6 separate regions of the Homo sapiens genome follow, and all the other regions are reported to be linked to region 1. Evidence: microRNA targets listed by miRTarBase, many of them from high-throughput screens and not tested one by one. Region 1 holds a microRNA gene; each other region holds the end of a gene's coding sequence.

Region 1 (3,423 bases):
ATTAGTAGAGACGGAGTCTGACCATATTGGCCAGGCTGGATTATTATTAAGACAGGGTCTACCTCTGTCACCAGGTGCAGGATCATGGCTCACTGCAGCCTCGACCTCTTCGGCTCAAGTGACCCTCCCGCTTCAGCCTCCTGAGTAGCTTAGCTGAGACTACAGGTGCCACCTATCACACTGGCTTTTTTTTTTTTAAGACATGGGGTCTCACTATGTTGCCCAGGCTGGTCTCGAATTTCTGGGCTCAAGCAGTCCTCCAGCCTCTGCCCCGCCCCGCAAAATGGTGTGATTACAGGCATGAGCCATGTCTCCCAGCCCTAAATAATGATTTTTTTTTTTTGAGACAGGGTCTCACTCTGTCATCCAGGCTGGAGTACAGTGGTGCAATCACAGCTCACTGCAGCCTCAACCTCCCAGCCTCAAGCAATCCTCCCACCTCAACTTCCCAAGTAGCTGGGACTACAGGTGTGCACAACTAATTTTCTTTCTTTTCTTTCCTTTCTTCTTTCCTTTCTTTCTTTTTTGTAGAGATGGGAGTCGCATTGTATTGCCCAGGCTGGTCTCGAACTCCTGGGCTCAAGAGATCCTCCCACCTATGCCTCCCAAAGTGCTGGGATTACAGGCGTGAGCCACTGTGCCCTGCCCTAAATGATTTCTAAGATGCTAAACAACCCTGACGTACGGTCAATCCTCTGGTTCTTTCCCCTCTGACCACATTCTGACCTCTTCTCAGAATATCCCAACCATTTCTGTTTTCCACCTCTGATTCCACCTTGGATTCCTAGAGCTCTTAGGAGAGAGAACCCCCTTAGCAAGGAACCTCTCAACAGCCCCAGGCCCAGAGTGAACCCGGGAGGCGGAGGTTGCAGTGAGCCGAGATAGTGCCACTGCACTCCAGCCTGGGCGACAGAGCGAGACTGTCTCAGAAGAAAAAAAATAAAAGTATATGTATGTATAACATATATATAATATAGATTATATATATATTAGACAATAAATATATATAGCCTAAAGCTCAAGGTGTACCCCCCACATCCCGTTCATTCTGCCTAAGTGCACAGAGCTGGGGTCCCCTCCCAACACCACCCCTTCACAAACATGTAGTAGCCTAACAGAATACTTAAGATCAAAATAACATTCTGCTGTTTTTGGATTTTTACTTACATGATCCTATTTAATCCTCACAGTGCACCTGCCGAGGAGAAGAGATTATTATCCCGTTTTACAGAAAGCTCAGAAACAGAATATGGCCCCTTAACCACCAGTTGCTGATAATGCCAGGTTGGACCTCTGGCTTCCCAGAGCACTACACCCAGCAGTCCACTGCAGTCCACCCACTGACATCCCCTGGAACCCAGAAGCAAGTGCGTTTTAATCTGCAAGACCTCGGGGCCCTGGGGAGGTGGGATGGCTAGCATGTGGGTGTTGATTAACTGGGAAACCGGCACGAGTGTCTTAGAAGTACTTCACAAAGGAGCCGGGTGGGGAGTGAAGGAGGGGGTGGGGCGTGAGACGTTAAGAAAAATTGGATTAACGTGTCGTGGGCTGGGTTGCATTAACCATTCCCAACACTATCTCTGGGGAAGTCTCACACCTGATATTCAATAGACATCCCCTGTAGTGGGTGATGTTGGCAGAGGCAGGCGACATATACAATAATATTTTTAGAGATCCTTGTTCACACTTCATCCGCACCAGAGGACTTCAGCCCCTGTGGTATTCACTCCTCTTTAGGGCTAATTTGAGAAACTGTCTCAGATTGGAATCCAGCACCTAGAGATAGGCTGAGGTGAGCAGGCTGATCTGTTCAGACGCTTCGCGGACCAGGTTAACTTTACAAGCTCATTGGCTTCCAGAGGGTTGGGGACCCTTCTTATCCTCCTAGCTCAGAGGGAAAGATTCAAGAGTTTACTCTTCGCCCAATGCCCACTTCAGCTAGGGGTTCCTGGAAGAACGGGGCTGTGGAGTATCTCAGAAAACTTTCCTCCCTCTACTGTCTTCAGGCCCCAGGAGACAAACCTCCTTCCAAGCCTCCTGGTCCCAGTGGCTTCCCTCTCACCGAAATCGAAAGAACCCGAGTCCCAGCCCGACCCCTTCTCTCGCCGAGCCCTGGCTGGGATACCTTGGCCGGGAGGACAGGACGGCCTCAGGCTGGCCGCCAGACGCACTCCGCAGGACGCGCGCGCTCGAGCCTCGGTGGACTCAGCCGCCGGCCCCGGGAGGCCGCCTCCCTGCGCAGCACCTCCTGCCACCCGCGCGGGCACGTGGGATCTTGACTCGCCGCCCCCGCCTCCTTCTGCTCCGCGTCCCCAGCCCGCGGCTCGGGGCGCGGCGTGGCGCGGCGCGTGGGCGTGCTGCGGGGCGACCATGGCTGTAGACTGTTACCTCCAGTTCCCACAGTAACAATCGAAAGCCACGGTTGCCCTGGAGACGCGGGGGCGGGGCGCGCGGACGGCGCCGGCGCGGGGCGGGCTGACGTCAGGGCCGCGGGGGGGCGGGCGGGGCGGCGGGGGCTGAGGAGCGCGCGTGGGCCACCGCCCCTCGCAGCCCCTAGGGACCCGGACGGGGCGGCCCGATGGCGGCGCCTGCGTTGATCAGCACCGCGGACAGCGGCGGCGCAGGCAGCGGGCCGGGGGCGGGGCCCTGAGGGACGGGGACTGGGGGTCCCCGGGCGCGGCGGCGGCGGCCGGGGCCGCGGTCCTGGGGCGGGGCCAGGCGTCGGTGGCCGTGACTGGAGACTGTTACTGAGGGCGGCCCGGGCAGTAAGCAGTCTAGAGCCAAGGTGCCGGCGCGCTGTCCGGGCGGGGTGCCCCGGTCGCCCCGGCTGCCCCGGCTGGGGGCTCTGCTGCTCCGCCTCCCCTGCGTCTCCCGCCCTGCCCCGCCCGGCGCTCGCGACCAGGCACGCGGCCCCTGACGTCAGAGGGCCGTGACGTCAAAGATGTCCCAGAGGGGGCACTTCCGGCGGGGGCGTGGGGGCGGGGCGGGACCTGGGAGGCCCCGCCCCCCCGGTCCTGAGAGGACAGCTCCGCTCGCAGAGGCGGGAAGCCGTGGGCGCCGCGGGACCCGCTGGACGGGACCTGCCGGGAAGGGGCGCCCGACGCCATGCGGGGCGGGGGTCCCAGGAGGGCCGGGGAAGCGGGGGTGGGCGTCCGTCTCTCGCCTGCACCCCCGCTCAGCCGGCCCGGGCAGCGAGGCTGAGTCACCGCGCCGCAGGGAGGGAGAGGAGGGGGCGCGTCTCCTGGGGCGCCAGCACCTTCGCCTCACTTTCCTGGGAGAATGGCGCAGGAGCCCCAAGAAAGCCGGGGGGGGGTCTCCGAGGTCGGTCCTCCACTCGATGCTCCTCCGAAGTAGCTGCGTGTCCATCGGGCGCCGGCAGGTGCTGCGCGGGCTCGTGTCGTCTCTGGCCCCGGCTCCGCAGCC
Region 2 (3,423 bases), not on the chromosome of region 1:
GTTTTTCCTATGTAAAGTGATAATAAAAGGAAATAACGGCTAGCCTTACTCCTGAGATTTGATGACTTCTGGCTTTAAATTGGATTGCCCATTTCACAAGCTGAGTTTACCCCCCTTACGTATCACCTCCATTTCTGAAACAGGCATGTCAAGAATGAGTTTAATTTTCCTGTCTGTCTGATTTATTTCATATAGGCTCCCAGTCACAAGTACAGTGCCCACAGCAGCCATGTCACCAATGTCAGTTTTACTCACAATGACAGTCACCTGATATCAACTGGTGGAAAAGACATGAGCATCATTCAGTGGAAACTTGTGGAAAAGTTATCTTTGCCTCAGAATGAGACTGTAGCGGATACTACTCTAACCAAAGCCCCCGTCTCTTCCACTGAAAGTGTCATCCAATCTAATACTCCCACACCGCCTCCTTCTCAGCCCTTAAATGAGACAGCTGAAGAGGAAAGTAGAATAAGCAGTTCTCCCACACTTCTGGAGAACAGCCTGGAACAAACTGTGGAGCCAAGTGAAGACCACAGCGAGGAGGAGAGTGAAGAGGGCAGCGGAGACCTTGGTGAGCCTCTTTATGAAGAGCCATGCAACGAGATAAGCAAGGAGCAGGCCAAAGCCACCCTTCTGGAGGACCAGCAAGACCCTTCGCCCTCGTCCTAACACCCTGGCTTCAGTGCAACTCTTTTCCTTCAGCTGCATGTGATTTTGTGATAAAGTTCAGGTAACAGGATGGGCAGTGATGGAGAATCACTGTTGATTGAGATTTTGGTTTCCATGTGATTTGTTTTCTTCAATAGTCTTATTTTCAGTCTCTCAAATACAGCCAACTTAAAGTTTTAGTTTGGTGTTTATTGAAAATTAACCAAACTTAATACTAGGAGAAGACTGAATCATTAATGATGTCTCACAAATTACTGTGTACCTAAGTGGTGTGATGTAAATACTGGAAACAAAAACAGCAGTTGCATTGATTTTGAAAACAAACCCCCTTGTTATCTGAACATGTTTTCTTCAGGAACAACCAGAGGTATCACAAACACTGTTACTCATCTACTGGCTCAGACTGTACTACTTTTTTTTTTTTTTTTCCTGAAAAAGAAACCAGAAAAAAATGTACTCTTACTGAGATACCCTCTCACCCCAAATGTGTAATGGAAAATTTTTAATTAAGAAAAACTTCAGTTTTGCCAAGTGCAATGGTGTTGCCTTCTTTAAAAAATGCCGTTTTCTTACACTACCAGTGGATGTCCAGACATGCTCTTAGTCTACTAGAGAGGTGCTGCCTTTTCTAAGTCATAATGAGGAACAGTCCCTTAATTTCTTGTGTGCAACTCTGTTTTATCCTAGAACTAAGAGAGCATTGGTTTGTTAAAGAGCTTTCAATGTATATTAAAACCTTCAATACTCAGAAATGATGGATTCCTCCAAGGAGTCCTTTACTAGCCTAAACATTCTCAAATGTTTGAGATTCAAGTGAATGGAAGGAAAACCACATGCCTTTAAAACTAAACTGTAATAATTACCTGGCTAATTTCAGCTAAGCCTTCATCATAATTTGTTCCCTCAGTAATAGGAGAAATATAAATACAGTAAGTTTAGATTATTGAATTGGTGCTTGAAATTTATTGGTTTTGTTGTAATTTTATACAGATTATATGAGGGATAAGATACTCATCAAATTGCAAATTCTTTTTTTTACAGAAGTGTGGGTAACAGTCACAGCAGTTTTTTTTACCAACAGCATACTTAACAGACTTGCTGTGTAGCAGTTTTTTTCTGGTGGAGTTGCTGTAAGTCTTGTAAGTCTAATGTGGCTATCCTACTCTTTTGGGCAATGCATGTATTATGCATTGGAAAGGTATTTTTTTTAAGTTCTGTTGGCTAGCTATGGTTTTCAGTACATTTCCTACTTTAAGAGTAATTACTGACAAATATGTATTTCCTATATGTTTATACTTTGATTATAAAAAAGTATTTTGTTTTGATTTTTTAACTTGCTGCATTGTTTTGATACTTTCTATTTTTTTGGTCAAATCATGTTTAGAAACTTTGGATGAGTTAAGAAGTCTTAAGTATGCAGGCGTTTACGTGATTGTGCCATTCCAAAGTGCATCAGAACTGTCATTCCCTTCTAATATCTTCTCAGGAGTAATACAAATCAGGTATTTCATCATCATTTGGTAATATGAAAACTCCAGTGAACTCCCAAGGACATTTACAACATTTATATTCACACGCTGTATGGAAGGGTGTGGGTGTGTGTGAAGGGGCGAGTGGAGACACTGTGTGTATCTCTAGATAAGAAGATATGCACCACGTTGAAAATACTCAGTGTAGATCTCTATGTGTATAGGTATCTGTATATCTTTCCTTTTGTTTACAACTGTTAAAAAACCTCAAAATAGTTCTCTTCAAAAGAAGAGAGATTCCAAGCAACCCATCTTTCTTCAGTATGTATGTTCTGTACATACTTATCGGAGCGCGCCAGTAAGTATCAGGCATATATATCTGTCTGTTAGCAATGATTATTACATCATCAGATCAGCATGTGCTATACTCCCTGCAAGAAATATACTGACATGAACAGGCAGTTCTTGGAGAAGAAAGAGCATTTCTTTAAGTACCTGGGGAATACAGCTCTCAGTGATCAGCAGGGAGTTTATTTGAGGACATCAGTCACCTTTGGGGTTGCCATGTACAATGAGATTTATAATCATGATACTCTTCGGTGGTAGTTTCAAAAGACACTACTAATACGCAGGAAGCGTTCCAGCTATTTAATGCTGGCAACTACTGTTTAATGGTCAGTTAAATCTGTGATAATGGTTGGAAGTGGGTGGGGTTATGAAATTGTAGATGTTTTTAGAAAAACTTGTGAATGAAAATGAATCCAAGTGTTTCATGTGAAGATGTTGAGCCATTGCTATCATGCATTCCTGTCTCATGGCAGAAAATTTTGAAGATTAAAAAATAAAATAATCAAAATGTTTCCTCTTTCTAAGTGCGTCTTAACTCTTTCTTCATTTATACTGAGAGTTTCCATGACTATCCAGTTATCAGAAGGCATGACAATTCAGAAGACAACATTTATCAGTGGGCTACTGCTGCTGCTGTGGATAAAATCATTCTGGTAGTAACAAACTCCCATCTCATAATGTTAGAGGAAATTACTTCTGATTTATGCTCCCCCTGAATATGTGGATAGCTTTGTTTTCACTTATTTCATGTCAGCACTTTCTCTAATGTTTAATATTGGATAATCCTGATAATCTTCGTTACCCATCCGACTAGGCTGCCTCGCAGTGTTAGCCTTTGTGAAGTACTTGAACTCAGTAGGCCATGGCATTCTCTGCTTTCTCCCATCTCTCCCATGTTGCTTTTTAACGCAGATCTTCTGTATACCACAATCACAAA
Region 3 (3,423 bases), not on the chromosome of region 1:
CAGCACTCCACTGTCAGCCAGGGGGGGTCACTCCTGCCATGAGCTCAAAGCTGTTTATGGCGGGTTGTTTTCCTGCCGTCTCTTCTCTTCACTGTGATGCGCCTACTGTGCGTATTTTGTCCACGCTGGCAATGCAGCCAGCCCCAGCTGGTCCCCAGTTTGGGACCTTATTCCTGGGGTGTGCAGGGCAGGTGTCCTTCCAGGTCCAAGGGAGGCCAGGGCAGGGCCGTTGCCTCACTCAGGGCTGTGTGGCCAGCCTGGGGCGGGGCCCAGGGATGTCGGGCCCCTCCCGGCATCACTCCGCCCGCTCCCCACAGGTGACGCTGAGCTACGGTATGTTTGAAAACAAGCGGAACGCCGTCCACGTGAAGGGGCCCTTCTCGGTGGAGGCCGACCCATCCAGGTAAGGAAACCCCGGCCCAGATGGGCTTGCGTAGGGTGGCCTAGGGGCGTCAGGGGGCCTCGTGGAGCTGCAGCAGGGTCTCTCTAAGCGGCATGACTCTACATAGAGGTGTCCCCCGGAGTCCTGCTTGCTCGGGGTGGGGCCGCCAGTGTTGTGGGACTGCAAATGGGAGCTCAGCACCTGCCTGCCACCCACGCAGACCAGCCCCTGCTCTGTTCCCACAGGTTCCGCTCCATCCACTGCCACCTGTACCCGGACACACCCTGGTGTCCCCGCACTGCCATCTTCTAGTGGCCATGGCTGAGACCCAATCCCTGGGCGCCCCTGGTATCCAAAGGGCCCAGGGACCCTGTTGCGCTGCCCTGGCCTCGGCATTCGAGGCTCCCCTAGGGCCGTGCCTGTGCGTGTGCGTGTGCGTGTGTGTGTGTGTGTACTGCATGCCCACCCGGGTAGCAGGCTGCTGGGCAGTTCTGCTCTGTGGAGGGGCGGGCACCAGCGCCACTTATGTGCCTCTGCTCCGAGGGCCAGTGGGCTGCAGGGCCTGCTTGGAGGAAGGATTTGTGTGTCGGAGGCCACTCCGAGGGCAATTCTGTTAGGATTTTTGGATCTTTCTACAGCTACGGGGCTCCGGGCTACTTTGCAGGGATGCGATGCGTAGGTGCCTTTCTCTTCCTGCTGACCACAAGCTCTGTGCTGGGGGTACCTGTGCCCTGAAGTCCTGGCCCCTGTGTCATAGCCCCAAGTACGACTCACTGAGCCATGCTCATTGCAGGGGAGGCTGGGTCTGGGGGTGCGTGACCCAATCCCCTTCCTCCTGGCCTGGACGCTGTGGCTTAAGAGTAACAGCAGCCACCGCCCAGTTCCAGTGGCCCCACGAAGCCCCCAGTGGCTGGCTGTCCAGCTGGGCAAACAGTGGCACCCCTCCCAGCTCTTCTGAGTGGGGAGTCTTCCAGGCCTCCTCAGAGGTCTTCCCTTTGCCTCCCCAGGACAGGGTGAGTCAGAGCTCAGCATTTAATCTCCTCTCCAAAGTAGAGAGCAAGTCGCCCACAGTGGGCGTGTCTGTAAATATTGTGACAGTATTTTTTTACTGTGCTGTTTTTTTTGAAAGGGGATGGGTAAAAAGTAGGGTGTTCTTGTTTTTTGCTTGGGAGGGTGGGGGTGGGGGAGGGTCTTATTTTATCTTATCTTTTCTGTGGATCAGAAAAAACAGAAGCCAAACTCGGGGTCATCTTTGTTTTTAAAGCTGAAGTGGGACTGTCTGGCACTCTGTGTATTTATGCGTTCCAGCATCTGGAACCTCCCATCCCTGCCCTCCTCCTGTGTAGCTGCCACCTCCCCGCTGGGCCCAGCATGGCTCACCTGTCCCGTGGGCTGTGTTTCTTGTTGTTTTTCTCTTTGCAAAGACATAGCTAGGAAAGCGAATGATAAGGGAAAAGTTCTCAGGGAATTGAAGTGTTGTTGCTATGGTGACGTCCTTTTGCTGTGAATAAAGGTGCTCTTTGCAGCAATCCTGGGGGTCCTGGTCTTGGCTGGAGGTGGGGCCTAAGCCCCAGGGCAGCCAGGGTCAGGAGAGGCACACAGGTGAAGGGGAGGCTTGGCCTTGGGTGCACCGCATGGAGCAGGTAGATAGGAAACGCTTAGAGACAACTATTTTGGAACGAAACCTGGCGTCACTATAGCTGCCTGCTGGTGACTACAGGTGCGGCCCACCCAGGGTCAGGGTGGTCGCTGGAGCGTGAGCCCTGTGCTTCCAGGAGGAACAGGTCTAGGATGCTGGGGGCTCTAGGTCCCAGCCAAAAGCACAACCCCAAGGCTCTGGCCTGGTCTGGCCACTGGGGAGCCCAGCCCCTGCAGGAGGGACAGTGACTCCTGTGACCGGGCCTGGGGCCTCCTTATCCAACTTCACTCCTGCCACGAGCTCACAGAGTCCACATCATCGCCTCACTTTGCAGGTGGGGAAACTGAGGCACGGAGCAGCTGATGCCCAAGGTCCAGCAGCCATGCTGGTGGGCTGGGGAGGCGCTCAGACTCCAAGCCAGGCAGGCCGTGGGTCCGGCCGCCCCACAGCTGGTAATGCTGCACCTCCCTCTCCTGTGATGTGGCCCCAGGCCCCGACCCCGCTCAGGGGTGGTGGGAAGAGTCCTGGAGAGCAGGAGCAGTGCCGGAGCCCCCACTGCAGCTGGTCCCAGCCCCTGCAGAGATCCAGACGCTTGTTTTTTAAATACAGCAGCTCTGCGGTGCTTTTCCTTCCTCAAATCCAGCCTTTGAGGGTGACTGAGTAGGGGACGGGTGCTGCAGCCTCTGCGGGGATTCCCTCCCCTCACCCTCCTGGCAGCCCCGGGGCGGCTCACTTCCTCTTCACCATGAGCCCCCACCCCTTCCCTGGGGCTTACACCCTTGGCCTGGCACTGCCCTGGCCGCGCCCCTTGCAAGTTCCTGCTCTGGCCTGACCCTGCTTCCCCCGACCCCAGGGCTCCAGGTCCCCCTCCTGGTGCCTCTGCACCCCCCACTCTGCTCCAAGGAGACGACACACTGTGAAAAGTGCCTCTCTATGGGGGGGTGCCTTGCCCTCCCCCGTCGCTGCCCCCTCCAGAAGAGTGCTGACGTGCTGAATGGGCCTGCAGAGACCCCCTTACTCTAAGCCTGGCTGGGGGCTACCCTGGCCTTGGGGGCGGCTGGCAGGGCTGTGACCCCACCTTGGCCTTGGACGGTCCTGAGTCAGCAGAGCAGCTGCCTGGGGGGTGTGGACAGTGATGGGGATGGCGGGAGGATGGAGGGCCCTCACCGTCACGTGGCCTGACCCCCGTCTGGGTGGCTGTGGTCCTCCCTGAGCACCCACCATGTGCCCACCCACTTCTCATAGGACGGCATAGGCCCCTCTTCTGAACGAGGAAGCTGAGACTCTGGGGTGGGGCGGGGGGGTCGTGACGGAACAGGCTGCGGGCAGAGGCTGCTGGCCTCCTTCCTGCCCGGCTGACTCAGAGGCTTGGGGCCTTCTGCCCTGGCCCCGACGCTGTCCC
Region 4 (3,391 bases), not on the chromosome of region 1:
GCGTGGAGTGGCCAGAGGAGCAGGACCGATTGGTTCGCCCCACCCAGGCATGAGCCTCGGGGGCGCTGGGCCCAGAGGACACCGGCACCCTGGTGGGGGCTGTGAGGCCGCATTGCTCGAGGTCAGACAGCAGTAAGAAGTGGCCGCCCCTGGTGTCTTCCCTGCCCCAGGAGCCTGCTGCACGACAGGACAGGGCCCTGGTAAGGCCCGCACCCCTGCGTCCCCGGGCCCCTCGCGCCTGCAGCCGCCCTCTCCCCATCCGCCCTGCCGCTCAGGAGTGCTTCGTAAGCGGAAGCACAGTTTGCAACAGTTTGGGGTTGTCTTATTTTCACTGCTGGCGATTTCCTGGGGAGCCGCTGGTTCTGTGCCCCCAGGCCGCTCCTCTCTGTTGGGGGGCCCCCACCTCACTGCCTGAGGACAACGGGGGTCCCCAGGTTTGGGCTTGCGAATAAGCTGCTGAGGGCTCTGTGTGAACCGGGATTTCACTGCCCTGGGATGTGCGGAGCTGTACGCCCATTCCACGCTCTGTTTTAGAAACAAAGAAACAACTGCTGACCTGTTTCTTTTTTTTTTTTTTTTTTGAGACGGAGTCTCGCTCTGTCGCCCAGGCTGGAGTGCAGTGGCGCGATCTCAGCTCACTGCAACCTCCGCCTCCCGGATTCAAGCGATTCCCCGCCTCAGCCTCTCAAGTAGCTGGAATTACAGGCGCCCGCCACCACGCCCGGCTAATTTTTTGTATTTTTAGTAGACACGGGGTTTCACCATGTTGACCAAGATGGCCTTGATCTCCTGACCTCGTGATCCACCCGCCTCGGCCTCCCAAAGTGCTGGGATGACAGGCGTGAGCCCCCGCGCCCGGCCTGCTGACCCGTTTCTTCGAGGCACATGTTACGTTCCTGCGTGGGGTGCCAGCAAGTTTTATTTCAGCTGTGGTGACCTGTGCAGCTCCCAGTGACAACTCAAGTGGCGACGCCCTCCGACTGGCCAACGTGGGCCGATCTCCCCTCACACTGCCAACCTGGGGACATCCTGGGTGCAGCCCTGTCCTCCACCCACTCCATGCCAGCCAAAGATGTCCCCAGAGGCCGCCTGGTGTCCCCTGGGGTGGGGCTCGCTTCTGTCTGCAGGGTGAGCAGAAGCTCTCGGGCCGGGCACGACCCTCCCTTCCCAGAAGGGTTTTCCGTGTCAGGCTGCTCAGCACCTCCCAGCAAGTGCCTCGGCCCAGTCTTCCTGTATTTATGTGGAAGGCGGCGGCTGGGGATGGAGCCCTGGCCGTCCCCGGGGACTTCACCAGGGCGATGCTGCTGTCGCCCCACACACAGAAGGGGAGACAGGCCCAGGGTGTCACTGCCTGGCTCCAGGCTGTGGGGCTCTTGGCTCTGACCTTTTCTCTGAGAGGCTGGAGTTTGACTCCCAGGGCTGTAGGCAGAAGTCCCAGCGGAGTCAGGATGTCAGGAGGGCGCTGGGCACAGGTGGGGGCGCCCCCACACCGACGGCCAGCCCTCTCTGCGTCCCGCAGGACAGCGGCATGAAGCCCCCAGGCCTGCCCTGCACCCAGCACGGCTCCTGCCCTCAGCCTCTGCCCTTCCCGGGGGATCTGAGGAGCACCGAGGCGTCGGCCTCTGCCCTTCCCGGGGGATCCGAGGAACACCGAGGCGTCGGCCTCCGCCCTTCCCGGGGGATCGGAGGAACACCGAGGCGTTGGCCTCCGCCCTTCCCCGGGGGATCTGAGGCTTATTTTGTCATGAGAACAGTTTCAGACACCGTGTGCATATTTCCGACGTCTGCTGTAACAAAAGACCACAAAGTTGATGGCTTACTACGTTTATTTTCTGGCGGTTCTGGAGGCCAGAGTCCAAACTGGGTCCCACTGGGCTCATATCAAGGCAGGAGCAGGCCGGTCCCTCCCGGGGGCTCCAGTGCGGAACCGTTCCCGCCTTCCCCAGCATCTGGAGGCACCCACGTCCCTCAGCTTAGGGCCCTTCCTCCCCTTCACGGCCACAGCGCGGCCCATCCCCATCTCTCTCTGGCTCTCACTGTCCCGCCTCCTGTCGTGAGGACCCTGTGAGGACACTGGGGCCCTGGACCCCCCACCCTGGATGCTCCTCCATCTCCGTCCCACCTGCAGGTGCCTTTGTCCTCGCAAGGCGTTGTATTTGCAGATTCCCGGGACGGGACCGGCTTCGAGGCTGGTGTTCTGCGGCGTCTGTCACCGTCTCCCCGGCCCCCTCCCCTCCCCTCCGCTCCTGCCCCCACTCCCAACGTGCTCCCCACCCCGAGCCCCTGCCTCTGCCGGGCCCTGCCTGGGACGTCCCCCTCGACCTTTCGACGTCTGCGTCCTTCAGCCCGAGAGGCGCCCTGTTGGGTCCTCGAGGTCCCCAACTCAGGATTGAACCTGCTTGGTGGCCACCACCCCCTCAGGCTGGGACCCCCCTGGAGGGCTCCTGGGCTGTGTCCACAGCGCCCGCACACGGTGGGCACTCAGCGCTTACAGAGCCCGCAGGGGGAAGAACAAGCGTGGCCGGGCCCCTCGCCACCAGCCCAGGCACCTTGGGGAGCCGCCGGCCTCTCAGGGCCTCAGGAGACCAGGACGGGCAGGAAGTGGGCGGACAGGTGGTACCGCCGCGTCCGGCCGCCTGGCCGGGGCCCCCCCCTCCTGTCCAGCGCCAGGAACATGGGCTGGCCGCGGCGGCGCCAGCGCTGTGAGGCGTAGGTGTTGTGGCCGTTCTCTTCGATGCGCTCCCGGAACCTGCAGTCCACGGTGTAGAGTCGCTGCGGGCGGGGGTGAGGCCGGCCCACCCTCCCCACCCTGCCCGCGCCGCCCAGCCCTGCCCGGCACTCACCGACCCGTAGAGGCGGCCCCGGCGGTTCATGGCCACGTAGAAGCCTGAGGACACTGCTTTGATGACCACGACGCCCACGTGTACAGAGCGGATCTCCAGGATGCCTGGGGGAGGCGGGGGTCGGGGAGGGCCTTGCTGGCTCACCCCCAGCACCGCTGCTGTCCGCTGTGCTTCGTGCAGGGCCCTCAGGACCACGACAGATACCAGGAGACCCCCGGGACCACGAGTCCCCTCCCGACCACGACGGACACTCAGGATCCCCCAGAGCCGTGACTGACACCAGGAGCCCCCCCCAGCATGTGAGGGAGGAGCAAGGAGCAGGCAGAGGGAACGGGAAGCAGGACGGCCCCCACGAGCTGGGGGAGTGCAGAGATCGATGAGGACCCCGTGGGAGGGCCAGGTCAGCGCTGTCCCTGCAGCTCAGCCCAAGAGCAGCATCTGTGTGTGTGTATGGCGGGGGGGCTCCCACACACCCAGAGGGACGGACGTCAGGGGGGCAGCAACACCACGAGGAAGGTTGGGAAAGGGTTCCTGGGATGTGGGAGTCA
Region 5 (3,423 bases), not on the chromosome of region 1:
TGAGGTAAGTCTCATGAAAAAAAAGTGTTATTTTATTCTAAGTTCTTGTTGGGAGAGAATGAACTAGCCCTTTATACCTCACTACACATTATAATACATCACCTTCCTTTAATTCAGTTGCAAAACTATAGAAAAATATTATATATGTCATTTTGTTAAATGCAAGTCTCATCCTTTAGAAAGCTGTAGTAGGAACTGAGATACTACTATAAGATCTCTAATAAAATGTTTCTGGATAAATCTGTGGGAAATGTATTACGCCCTCAGTTAACAAGGCTTATTTTCAAAGGGGAGACTTAAAATTTGCTCCAATGTCAGTTCTCTACAGATGAGAACCAATACTACAGCAAGTAAGTCTTGCCTTTTTATTAATTAATTGGTTAGTTAGGATTTGTATTTAAAAATAAATATTACTGAGTTGGATTGTTTTAAATTGAACTCAGAGATACACCATATTGAATAAATTATTACTTATTCCAAGAAAGAAATAGTTCAAACTTTGAATTATCTACACAAGACATTAAAACGGAAAAAATGTACAGCACATGAACAGACACCAAAGAGCTTTTTATGTCTTTCTCTGCTAGTTTCTTTTTTGGGGGGACAGAGGACTATCTAATCTCCCTCTTCAATCACAAGCAAGCCCAAGTTAGTTAATTATTTTCTTTTAATCAAAGGAAATATTTTCAATCTCCTTCAACCCAACTTTATGGACTATCTCTAATTTATAGTACTATAATGACAGTTCATCTGGATTTACACAAAATTTCATGATGCACTTCTATAAACATTCAAACCTTTACAAACGTTAAAAATCAACTTTGTGGCACTTTGGTAAACTTGCTTAATAGTGACTCAAGTTAAATTGAAAGTAATAAGACTATGTGATTATTGGGAGAGTAGGGGAATTGGTCTTAAATTATATCATGACCTTGTTTAGGGTTTTTTACTGATGACCGTTAAGTAAATAGTTTCCAAGTATTTGACAGATAAATGGTGCTCTATGGTCTCCAAAAGTGGCCTGTTTTCCTTGAAGAATAGGTAAAGACAGCAGGCAATCATTCTGTGGGATTTTGCTTTTGCTAAGAGCAGGTAGAGAATTTAGATACAGTTACTATGCTCTATTTGCTCTTCCTATACTTGGAAGGGAAAACAGTGAGGTTAAGTTGTTCCACCTCCACAGAGTATTCTGGTGTCTATCCCTAAGCTCTCTTTGGGTCCTCTAAGCTGGTTAGGAGAACCAAAGAGGGGAAGGGGGAAAGTAAGAAAGACTACTCCAATTGAAAACCATAGACACATATGTTTTATTTTAGTAAAAATTTCAAATTATGACTTTAGTAGTCTTTAAAAGGTTACAACCATATCACAGACCTTGGCAAAGCTGCAGTGTATTAATTTTTATCCCCAGTTTCCATTCTTTAACCTTCAAGGAACGAAAATGAAATCAAAATTTTAAAACACATGATTATAAGCCTTTGTATCAACTGAGAATTAAGAATTTAAGTCATGAATCTTTTTCTTAATAAGCTACTTGACGTAACAAAAAGTAAAAAAAAAAGAAATCTTACTAACCTCTGTACTCTTAGAGTTTGAAAAATATTGATTACAGCTCTTCCTACAGAATCACGGTCACCTTCAAAATGCTATCCACAATATAAAGAAAATTATGAAAGTCAGAAAGCAGCTTGATTGTCAGTAGTATCAGTTTCCATCTTCTTTAACCCATGTGAATGTTCAAGACATGTGGTAGAAGAAAAGGAATAATGCTATTTCTAATGTTCATGATAACAAACACTCTAGGAAAACATTTAAAGAAACTCCATGATTTCACAGTTAAAATTAGAGCTCTATTAATAACCAACAAGCTAAGGTGTTTTCTATATCTCATTGCTCTGTATATTTCTAGCAATTTATAGAGAAGTTTAGCAGATCTACAAGGGTTTTCATCAGTTAATTTTCAACATTAACTAGGTCACATGCCAGAAGCTGTTATACCAAATATTTAAAAATTAGAGCTGTGCTGAAAAAAAAATGACCTACAATAAGAACTTGAGAGAGATATAGACTGACTTCCTGCCTGAGACAATTTTACAGCCTAAAAATTCTGAAAGCAACAGAAAAGCAGAATTGCTTATTTTGCCTAATTACTTTCACCATTTAAATATTAATCAACATAGCATCAAGTCTAAAATTCAGCTACTAGTAACATTATTTCATCAGTAGTCATCACTTAAAAAAGGATTCTGAACTTACATAAAGTAAAAAACAAAAATAAATCTAATAGGAAAAAGATAAGGGCCTGTTCTAATACCTTTGAGTCAATAATGAATGAAAACAGACAGAACTAAAACTAATGAAGGCACTATCGTAAACAGCAATCCACACCTTGCCCACCCCCACACCTCAGAAAAGATTTCCACCAGGAATCAAGAATTATGCTATGGCCCTTTAGGAAAAGTAAACTAAGAAATTGTAACATTAAGAAGGGAACTAAATTATGATCTCTACACATGTATGTATACTGACATAATAAACTACTGTCAGCAGTACCTTGAAATCTTCTAAACTGTGTAAGTACTAGTCTTTGAAGACGCCCACTTCACCGCCATAAACTTTAAACAGTCAAAACGTTTACCCAAAGTAGTGGTTCTTAAACTAGACTGTGCATCAGAATAACCCAGCACTTGTTAAAAAAACAATGCTAGGCGCCTCCCTGTTGGTTTCTGATTCACTATGTCTGGGGGCGGGGCCCACTAGTATGCATTCCTAACAACTTCTCAAGTGATGCTGAAGCTGCAGGTCTTGGGATCACCTGCCAAGAACCACTGGCTTAAATTATTAATGGTACATCAGCACAGCCCTAACCAAAATTTTGGTCAAGATGCATGTAAACCCATAAGGATGGAGTATTTTAATGCTCACAAAGAACGTTGATAAATTCACCCTTATTACATCAAAACATCAACATCTGCTTCATGGTCTTCCTCAGTCACTTTCAAGGACAGCACCTCTTCGTTAAGGAAGAGCCCACTGAGCCTCTCCTTCCGGGCCTGCCTCTGCTCCTTCAGCTGCCTCTTGCGGAAGGCCTTCTGCTGTAACTTCCGCTGCTTGGATCGCTTCTGTCAAAATAAAAATTTCTAAATCAGTTTGGTTTAGTTTTTGGCATATCCACCCCAAAATGTTTTGTGGATCAAATTCTCTATTTTCTAACTTTAAGAGCTGTTCAAATCCTTCTGTAGTATGATCCTTGTTCCAATAAGTGAGCCACTGGCTTAGGCTTAAAAATGATTAAGATTCCAATTTTGTGGTATTTGACCAGTGACTCTTCTGATTAGGAAGAGTTGAGACGATCATTTTGGCTAGTGATAGATAAAAAGTCACTTCAAAGACTTCTTTTTTAAATTCCATTAAGGTACATTGGTA
Region 6 (3,376 bases), not on the chromosome of region 1:
CTAGTGTGTATATTTAGTTGGTTGAGGCACTTCTTTCTAATCATGAAAAGTTGAGCAACTATATGCTACCATAGTGCTGAGCCACCAGTTATTTTTGCACATTAACAAGTGGAGCCCTAGTTTAACTCTAAAAATCGCCATGTAGAGCTTACTTATACTTTCAAATAAATTTACATGAATTTACTTAATATATTAAAATGCCACTTAAGTAATTCCATAAACTATGGCTCAGCAGTCCATCTTTCCTTGAGAGTGGCCCTGGTTAATCTTTATGTTAATTTTTTTCCAAGACTCCTGGGTTTTACAGTTAAGAGGTTCAGTTAATCATTAAACTGTATCGTTGTTAGCACGTAGGTAGCTTTATATTACTTGTACCAACAAAACTTAATTTTTGACACACCTCTAATAACATCACTTTTCTGTTTTGGAAGATCAAAGCCATCGGCCAGACAGAGTTGAATGCAAGCAATCCAGAAGAAGTGTTACAGCTGGCAGCGCAGAGAAGGAAAAAAAAGTTTCTCCAAGCAATGGCAAAACTTTACTTTTAAGCAGTTAAATTTTTTTAACTTTTATTTTTTAAACAATGGGCTAAAAATAAACAGTATTAAAAGGTTAAGTTTATATAATACATATGTACACAATTAGTGGTGTTTTCTTTTCAGACAAAATACTGAAACAAATATTAGTTTAAAAACAAACTATACAGAAGACTTCATACCGTAACAATAAATGTATAGTTTCTTCAAAGGGAGAAGAGATTCACATATCTGATAACAAAATAAACTAGCAATCTAGTTTTCTAATCTACTTTATGAGGCTGGATTTTTTTTTTAGAAAAGCTAATTTAAAATATTTAGAAATAGCTAGCCTATGTACAGCAAGTTTTCATGTCTTTTTTTAATAAATAGATTTCTAGGAGTCAGTATATATTTAATACTCTTCTTCCTTAAGAAAATAGAAGTTTAGGTCAAGTGTTAAGCTTTATCACTTTGACACTGTCCTTATCTCACAATGGAGGAATTTAGAAAGGACCTTAACAGTTTCACAAACATAAATAAAGCCTTAGTCACACTAAATTAAAAAAAAAAATTCCTTAGGGATATCTTAGAGTAGTAAAGTGACTTCCTCATATAAATAGTTTGAAAGGGTACTTAAGTTTTTCACCCAAATTGTGATATACAAAAAGGTTATTACCAAGCAACCTACATGTCAAGAAAGCCCCAGTTAGGAAGGAGCCACAGCATTTATCTTGTTTATAATTTCTTTGGTACTCCCACTGTTTAGAGCACAGGTTGAACACCATGTTCATCTAAGCCTTATTAGTTAAAAAATGTGTTATGGCAAGGCAAATAAACTAGTTTAAAAAACATTAAATTTCACCATTTGTAGAAATTCAAGTTTTATAATAGCTTGCTATAGCAGCTATAGATAAATTAGTCACCTTATTACAAAACTAAACCTTTGTAAACAAGTTTAAATTTAATTTTCAAGAACCAAATTGCACTAGTCAAGAGTGTAGGAATTTTGAGAATCTAACAACTAGATTCAAAGTACTGTATCACTTAGTATACCCTTTAAGGTAGCACTTATCCAGTCCAAAACTCCAGTGACAAAATTCCTAGTTTATCAAGATAAACACAGTAACACTGGATTAAAGGAAAAACATTGCTATGGTATAGACTGTGGTTGGCTTCTATCCAGTAACCTTGGGAATGAAGACATCTTTGTAAACAAGTCCTGCTGTTTCTTTAACAGCTAACATAGGAAATAATTAAATGTATTCTTTAGTGCCAATTGTAAGTTTTAAAATCAGAATGGCAGTGTAACTTGTGAATTGGCTAGGGCAATCAATCACAGCACTACTTTCTGTAAAACTTTAGTAGTTCAGTGATACCAGTTCTACCCAATCTTGGTGAATTCCAACTTGTTTGCTTAGTTATCTTCTTTAGTGTTTTCCTGGTGGTTTTTCAGTGCTCTTCGGTGGTGTCATAATGCCTCCATTGCACACTGGTGACAACTGTCCCCCTTTTCTGAAGGTGTTTATGTAATTTACTTCCTCCTATACATGGGAAGAAATCATGCACTGATTTCATAAATCAAAGTCAAACCAGACTTCTGGGTACTTATTTGAGATTATTTAGGCCTAATTTTAATAGTCTTTTTATGTCTTTGCAAGTGTGAAGGGTCATATTCTGAAAGTTTCTGTAACGTTATATATTTTTTAAACTCTTTATCTAGACTGTTGGCATTGATCTTGAGACACTTCACAAATCTTGCTTTGATTTCAAAGTAATTTTATTAACTTTTCTACATTTTGAAATCAGTGTGCCCCTTAGAACTTTCTTTCCCCTGAAACTGCCTGAAGGAGTACTCTATTCCTACCATCAGTTTTGGTGACTTACTAGATTCAGATAGCAAAGCCAAAAAACTCACAAAAAAACATACCAGCATAGCCAAATAGTTTGTATGTGTCTGGATATTATGTCTGTCTTCCATAGGAATCTTCTTAAAAGTCTTCAGCTTCACTGGACTAGTACTTTTTACTACATTGACAAAAGGTACCATCCAATCTACACATTCTGAAATACTGTCCCACTCCAAACCTAGATAGATAGAAAAAAGTTAGAAAAGCATGAAGGTTGTACATCAGAAACTATCTTACATATGTCTGATGTACTTGTTGCTGTTTTTGAGATATTTTAAAAGAAACCAAATCATAACCAAGAAGTTTAGCATGTCAAAACAGATTATCACTCTCAAACTATTTACATGACTATGTTGAAGGGAAAAAGGACTTCAGAACTTCTTAACCAGTACCTTCTACATATGAAATTGAAATGGTCAAATCCCAAAGAACTCTTAAAGCAGAACTATAATGTTGATTCATTTCAACTGTATTTAAATTCCATTTGGTCTTTTTGTTGATACACATTCAGGATTGGAAAGTACTTCTAACAGAAAGATAATTACTGAACAGCTAATTTTTTTTTTGCCAAAGTTTTAAATGCATGTTTAGCAGAATGTTAAAGTTCAGAGACTGTAGTCCCATTAGAAGTTGTGAAAAGGTAAGAAGACAACAAATAGAGAGTCTTACCTGAGGCTTTCTTAACCACTTCAATGGAGGTAAAATGGCACAAGGCAGCAGCAGTCAGTATTCTGTACTGGAACTCTAATGAATCAATGGCTAGAATACACAGATCTAAAAGCTAACAGGAAAAACAAAAGTACAAGCAATTTAGGAGAAAGATGAGTACTAAATGTCTCTTGCTAAAACCTTAGGGATCTAGAGATAAATAAGCCACCACCCGGCCAGGCGCGGTGGCTCACGCCTGTAATCCCAGCACTTTGGGAGGCCGAGGCGGGTGGATCACAAGGT

Evidence for each region. Region 1 holds the annotated microRNA hsa-miR-132-3p (UAACAGUCUACAGCCAUGGUCG, at 2,366-2,387, opposite strand). A microRNA usually pairs through its seed, bases 2 to 8, with sites in the 3' UTR of a target mRNA and lowers its output. Matches are read on the target gene's strand: a 7mer-m8 pairs with bases 2 to 8, a 7mer-A1 pairs with bases 2 to 7 and ends in A, and an 8mer does both.
Region 2: miRTarBase lists EML4 as a target of hsa-miR-132-3p. Seed matches in the 3' UTR shown: 7mer-A1 at 1,048-1,054 and 7mer-A1 at 2,392-2,398.
Region 3: the mRNA of LFNG is a reported target of hsa-miR-132-3p. The part of its 3' UTR that is shown has no 7-base or 8-base seed match.
Region 4: miRTarBase lists FGF22 as a target of hsa-miR-132-3p. The part of its 3' UTR that is shown has no 7-base or 8-base seed match.
Region 5: miRTarBase lists FAM199X as a target of hsa-miR-132-3p. Seed matches in the 3' UTR shown: 7mer-m8 at 2,618-2,624.
Region 6: miRTarBase lists INTS8 as a target of hsa-miR-132-3p. The part of its 3' UTR that is shown has no 7-base or 8-base seed match.

What each region holds. Positions count from the first base shown.
Region 1 is chr17:2,047,564-2,050,986 of GRCh38, forward strand. It overlaps MIR132 (microRNA 132), which reads right to left and starts at 2,445; the gene lies at 2,345-2,445. It overlaps MIR212 (microRNA 212), which reads right to left and starts at 2,817; the gene lies at 2,708-2,817. It overlaps LOC124903896 (a long non-coding RNA gene), which reads right to left and starts at 2,386. Exons shown (of 2, transcript XR_007065576.1): 1 at 1,598-2,386; 2 at 1,144-1,195. RefSeq lists silencers at 2,141-2,940, 2,951-3,100.
Region 2 is chr2:42,329,539-42,332,961 of GRCh38, forward strand. EML4 (EMAP like 4) reads left to right here. Exons shown (of 23, transcript NM_019063.5): 23 at 196-3,010. The coding sequence ends at 669. Among named protein-coding and RNA genes, the nearest start is that of COX7A2L, 30 kb to the right of the region's middle.
Region 3 is chr7:2,526,519-2,529,941 of GRCh38, forward strand. It overlaps LFNG (LFNG O-fucosylpeptide 3-beta-N-acetylglucosaminyltransferase), which reads left to right. Exons shown (of 8, transcript NM_001040167.2): 7 at 318-403; 8 at 628-1,911. The coding sequence ends at 694. It overlaps MIR4648 (microRNA 4648), which reads left to right and starts at 556; the gene lies at 556-627. RefSeq lists enhancers at 1,851-2,825, 2,826-3,423 and silencers at 2,831-2,890, 3,411-3,423.
Region 4 is chr19:642,791-646,181 of GRCh38, reverse strand. FGF22 (fibroblast growth factor 22) reads right to left here. Exons shown (of 3, transcript NM_020637.2): 2 at 2,844-2,947; 3 at 1,809-2,772. The coding sequence ends at 2,578. Among named protein-coding and RNA genes, the nearest start is that of FGF22, 4.6 kb to the right of the region's middle. RefSeq lists an enhancer at 1,097-2,037.
Region 5 is chrX:104,189,304-104,192,726 of GRCh38, reverse strand. FAM199X (family with sequence similarity 199, X-linked) reads right to left here. Exons shown (of 6, transcript NM_207318.4): 6 at 1-3,119. The coding sequence ends at 2,949. Among named protein-coding and RNA genes, the nearest start is that of FAM199X, 25 kb to the right of the region's middle.
Region 6 is chr8:94,879,687-94,883,062 of GRCh38, forward strand. INTS8 (integrator complex subunit 8) reads left to right here. Exons shown (of 27, transcript NM_017864.4): 27 at 432-2,060. The coding sequence ends at 548. CCNE2 (cyclin E2) reads right to left here. Exons shown (of 12, transcript NM_057749.3): 10 at 3,095-3,206; 11 at 2,446-2,603; 12 at 538-2,059. The coding sequence ends at 1,946. Among named protein-coding and RNA genes, the nearest start is that of CCNE2, 14 kb to the right of the region's middle.